Regions from separate parts of the Homo sapiens genome. Here region 1 is linked to region 2. The links come from fine-mapping of genetic effects on gene expression. A gene starts in region 2. The other region holds a variant in brackets. All regions are shown on one strand. Distances are between the middles of the regions.

The links. PIP is the estimated chance that this variant, and not a neighbour inherited with it, causes the effect. A credible set is the group of variants that fine-mapping cannot tell apart.
Region 1: its variant is the best candidate, but not a certain one, in a credible set for the expression of CLCC1 in iPS cells (HipSci, PIP 0.72).

What each region holds. Positions count from the first base shown.
Region 1 is chr1:109,017,102-109,019,914 of GRCh38, reverse strand. WDR47 (WD repeat domain 47) reads left to right here. Exons shown (of 15, transcript NM_001142551.2): 3 at 2,314-2,397. Among named protein-coding and RNA genes, the nearest start is that of WDR47, 24 kb to the left of the region's middle. The variant G/TG (reference allele first, on the strand shown) is at 1,479.
Region 2 is chr1:108,962,291-108,965,103 of GRCh38, reverse strand. CLCC1 (chloride channel CLIC like 1) reads left to right here and starts at 1,620. Exons shown (of 13, transcript NM_001377458.1): 1 at 1,620-1,743; 2 at 2,635-2,795. RefSeq lists silencers at 1,825-2,064, 2,203-2,497 and an enhancer at 2,425-2,544.

The sequences.
Region 1 (2,813 bases), 55 kb before region 2:
GGTCTTCCTGCCCATCCTTCCCATTTAAAATTTCTCTGTTCTAAAACATTCAAAAATAGGGAAATTGCCGTTGTGTAAGAAAAGATGTAAGAATGCCTTGTAACTTTTGGATATTCCCATAGACCATTTAAAGTAGGATGAAACTTGTTCTTATTCCTTGCTGTTTTCATTCTCAGTGTAAACTGTATTCTCAAAGCTGTAGATTTCACATAGAATTCACAATGTAGAGCAGAGTTTCTCAGCCTTGGCACTGCTAGCATCTGGGCCAGATAATTCTTTGTTGTGGAGGGTTGTCCTTTGTTGTAGGATGTTAACGGCATCCCCAACTAGATCCCAGTAGATCTACCCACTAGATCCCAGTAGTATCCCCAGTTGTGACTACCAAAAATGTCTTTAGATGTTGCCAAATGTCCTGACAGAATGCAAAATCACCCCCAGTTGAGATGGATTTTCACCATGGTGCCTCAGCCTCCTAACATGTTGGGATTACAGGTGTGAGCCACCACTCCCAGCTTTTTTTTTTTTTTTTTTTGAGACAGAGTCTCACTCTGTCGCCCAGGCTGGACTGCAGTGGCGTGACTTCGGCTCACTGTAACGTGCCTTGTAGGTTCAAGCAATTCTCCCTGCCTCAGCTTCCCGAGTAAGCTGGGATTACAGGCACCTGCCACCACGCCTGGCTAATTTTTGTATTTTTAGTAGAGATGGTGTTTCGCCATGTTGGCCAGCCTGGTCTTGAACTCCTGACCTCAGGTGATCTGTCTGCCTCGGCCTCCAAAAATGCTGACAGCCACCATGCCTGGCCCACTCCCAGCTTTTAAAATTCTTTTTACTTTTTTTTTGAAACAGGGTCTTGCTATGTCACCTAGGCTGCCAGGCTGGAGTGGAGTGGCATGATCATGGTCACTGCAGCCATGACCTTCTTGACTCAAGCGATTATCCCACCTCAGCCTTCTGAATAGCTGGGACTACAGGCATGTACCACCATGCCCAGCTAATTTTTAAATTTTTTGTAGAGATGGGGTTTTGCATGTTGCCCAGGCTAGTCTTGAACTGCTGGGCTCAAATGATCACCTGTTCTTTCTTTTTTGTGTGTGTTTTTTTGAGACAGGGTCTCACTCTGTTGCCCAGGCTGGAGTGCAGTGGCACAATCTCAGCTCACTGCAGCCTTGACATCTGGGCTCAAGTGATCCTCCCACCTCAGCCTCCCGAGTAGCTGGGACCACAGGCATGCACAACCATGCCTGGCTAATTTTTGTATTTTTTGTAGAGCCAGGGTTTCGCCATGTTTCCCAGGCTGGTTTCGAACTCCTGAGCTCGAGTGAATTGCTTACCTTAGCTTCCTAAAGTGCTGGGACCACAGACATGAGCCACTGCGCCCAGCCACTTGTTCTTAAAATAATATATAATAGCTTTAAAACTGTAAGATGAATATGGAAATATAGGAACTTTAAAGCTTAGTCCATTTTTTTTTTTTTTTT[G/TG]AGACAGAGTCTCTCTTTTGTTGCCCAGGCTAGAGTGCAGTGGCGTGATCTTGGCTCACTGCAACCTCTGCCGCCCAGGTTCAAGCTTCTCCTGCCAGTAGCTGGGATTACGGGCGCCCGCCACCACGGCCAGCTAATTTTCGTACTTTTAGTAGAGACGGGGTTTCGCCATGTTGGGCAGGGTGGTCTCAAACTCCTGACCTCAGGTGATCTGCCCACCTTGGCCTCCCAAAGTGCTGGGATTACAGGTGTGAGCCACCACGCCTGGCATGTCCAATGTTTTTACATAGGTCAAAACCCACATATATATAGTTAGTATGAGTGGTTGCAGATTCACAAATTCTTCTCATACAGTGTATGTTGTTACAAATAAGTTATGAAAAATTTAGGCCAGGTGAGGTGACTCACGCTTGTAATCCCAGCACTTTGAGAGGCTGAGGTGGGTGGATCACCTGAGGTCAGGAGCTTGAGACCAGCCTGGCCAACATGGTGAAACCCTGTATCTACTAAAAATAGAAAAGAATTAGTGGGGCTTAGTGGTGCGAGCCTATAGTCCCAGCTTCTCGGGTGTCTGAGGCAGGAGAATCGCTTGAACACAGGAGTCAGAGGGTGCAGTGAGCCGAGATTGTGCCATTGCACTCCAGCCTGGGCAACAGAGCGACACTCTGTCTCAAAAAAAAAAAAAATTATGAAAAATTTATTTGAGGAATCAAATAAAATGTTAATCTCATTGTGTGCTTTATGAAGTTTGAATGCTGTTTTGTCATCTGTTCTGCTTTTAATTAGTATAACCTGAATTTGGTGACATGCTGGTTTTTTTAAATTTTTTATTTAGGCAGCTAATACTTGATGGTCAATGGGATGAAGTTCTTCAGTTCATTCAGCCTCTAGAATGTATGGAAAAATTTGACAAAAAAAGGTAAGATTTTATCTAAAGTTTTTAGTGTCTCATCATTGGTAGAAGCTTAGCAAAACAATGAACAAAAATTTTCATTTTCATTTTTCTTTCTCCACTGGCCTTGAACAGAGAGTAAACAAATTGATCTCTCTCTGTCACCCAAGCTGGAGTGTGGTGGCATGATCACAGCTCACTGCAGCCTTGGTCTCCTGGGCTCAAGCAATCCTCCCACTTCAGCCTCTCAAGTAGCTGGGACTATACAGGCGTGTACCATCAGCCTAGCTAATTTTGTATTTTTTTTAGAGTTAGGGTTTCACCATGTTGCCCAGGCTTCCCTTGTGTTCATTTGGATTATTTTAAGTTGATTTAATGTTCACTGACCCTTTCTTTTGCTATTAGCAATCTGTTGATAAATTGTGAATTTTTAAAAACAGGTT
Region 2 (2,813 bases):
TGCAGCCACTATGGAAAAGAGAATGGCAGTTCCGCCGGGCGCAGTGGCTCATGCGTGTAATCCCAGCACTTTGGCAGGTCGAGGTGGGTGGATAACGAGGTCAGGAGTTCGAGACCAGCCTGGTCAACATAGTGAAACCCCATCTCTACTAAAAATACAAAAATTAGCCAGGCATGGTGGCAAACGCCTGTAGTCACAGCTACTCAAGAGGCTGAGGCAGGAGAATCGCTTGAACCCGGGAGGCAGAGGTTGTGGTGAGCCGAGATCGTACCACTGCACTCCAGCCTGGGCAACAAGAGTGAAACTCCATCTCAAAAAAAAAAAAAGTACGGCAGATCCTCAAAAAATTAAAAATAGAATTACTACATAATCCAGCAATTCCACTTGTGTATATATATTCAGGAGTTGAAAGCAACAGATATTTGAACATCTGTGTGTATACCCAAAAGGGTTAAAAAACAGATATTTGTATATCCATGTTTACAGTATTATTTCACAGTAGCCAAAAGTGGAAACAACCTGTTATCCATTAACAGATGACTGAATGAACTGGTATATACATAAAATGGAATACTATTCAGCCTTAAAAGAAATTCTGACACGTTACCACATGGATGAACCTTGAGGACATTATGGTAAGTGAAATCAGTTACAAAAAGACAAATGCTGTATGAGTCCTTATATGAAATACCTAGAGTAGTCAAATTCATAAAGACAGAAAGAATGGTAGTCGCTGGGAAGGAGGGAGGGGAAGAATGAGGCGTTACCACTTACTGGGTACAGAGTTTCAGTTTTGCAAGATGAGTGCTGGAGATGGATGGTGGTAATGGTTGCATAACAATGTGAATGTATCTAATACCACTGAATTGTACCTTTAAAAATGGTTAAGATAGTAAATTTTACCATCTTCACAGTTTCCCGAGATTGCAAGGCCAGCAGTTAAAGACAAAAACAAAACTACTTCCAACTGCCCTACAGTGTGCAGACCTTTCCCTTGTCCTGCCCTGAGTAGAACTACAGTTGTCATTCGTGATCCTCCCTTTAAAAAATTATGCTTGTGGCTAGGCGCGGTGGCTTACACCTGTAATCCCAGCATTTTGGGAGGCCGAGGCGGGCGGATCACCTGAGGTCAGGAGTTCGAGACCAGCCTAGCCAACATGGTGAAACCCTGTCTCTGCTAAAAATACACATTAGCTGGATGTGGTGGTGCGCGCTTGTAGTCCCAGCTGCTCGGGAGGCTGAGAGAGGAGAATTGCTTGAACCCGGGAGGCAGAGGTTGCAGTGAGCCGAGCCGAGATCGCGCCACTGCACTCCAGCCTGGGCAACACTGTGAGACTCTGCCTCAAAAAAAAAAAAATCATGCTTGCGTTTCATGGCGAATGTTACACATTCAAACTTATCAAATATATTAATAGTAAGAAAATAGGTTTCCTATCCGTTGTATATATTTGAGTTCCAGGCGAGATTTCCTTCGCAGAAAGAGTTCCGCAGATGAAAAGTAAAAGAAAATCCGCGGCGAAAATAACCCGCGCGCAGAGGCCGGTCCCGCTACTAGCCCCGCCCAATCAACGAGGCCAATCAGCGGCCCGCAACGGGGGAGGGACACGCAGCCGTCAGCCGAACAATTCGATGACGAGGCCCAGGAAGCACGCTGAAACCCTGGGCGGCGGCAAGCTGTGCGACCTCTTCTGCGGCCGGCCTGGGCAGGTGTCTTCCTCGAGAGGCAGGCAGGGGATCCCGGACGTGAGTCCGTGCAGTTGGGTGTGTTGTGCGGCGGGTGGGGCGGGTTACCCGCCGTTACGCCCTGGCGGGTCCAGCGGACTCGCGGCGCAGACGCTGGGGAGGCCGCAGGCGCGACCCGGGGCGGGGACCGTGCTAGCTGCGTGCGTCCGCTGCGGCCTGTGGGTGCCCCGGGCTCCTACCTCAGCTCCCGCGCCGGCGGCTGCCTGTCCGCCGCGGTTGCGCGCGTTCCGGGGAGGTGCTTGGCCCAGAGAGCGGCCTACGGAGAAGGCACAGCGAGGGCAAAGCGAGACCTGAGCGCACGTTGAATTCTGTTGGCTTTGGTTATCTCTGAAAACTTTAAGCATAATTTGAATAAATGCTGTCAGCAGAATAGCTCGGATTTAGTTGTAGTTAATTTTCTAAAACTTCAAATCTGTGAATTAACACAGTTAACAACAACAACAAAAACGGACACAAAACAACCTCCAAAATGGATTTTTTTTTTTTTTTTGAGACGGAGTCTTGCTGTGTCACCCAGGCTGGAGTGCGGTGGTGCTATCTCCGCTCACGGCAACCTCCGCCTTCCGGGTTCCAGCGATTCTCCTGCCTCAGCCACCTGAGTAGATGGGACCACAGGTGCGCGCCACCAGGCCCGGCTAATTTGTAAATTTTATTTGTAGAGAAGGGGTCTCCCTGTGTTGTCCAGGCTTGTCTCTGACTCCTGGGCTCAAAGGATCTTCCCATCTTGGCCTCCCAAAGTGCTGGGATTACAAGCGTGAGCCATTGCGCCTGGCTCCAAATCTGATTTGAGTGTAAAAAGTTAGACACACCATAAGCTGTAGGTTTATTACTGGGTGGTGAAAAACAATTCAGGTTTTCTTTATAATAGTGATTATGAAGTGTTCTTCCCAGACTAGCTTTATCGTCATCTGGGAAATTGTTAAAAATGCAAATTCGCAAGTTTGAGAGCCATGGTTCCAAGAAACTGCATAAGCATACGAAATAAGTTGCAGCCTCCCGACTTATACCCTGGTACTTCTAGTCTAAAACAGGATTTGACTCTACTAATCCAGGTTAGTCTTGCCTTTCCC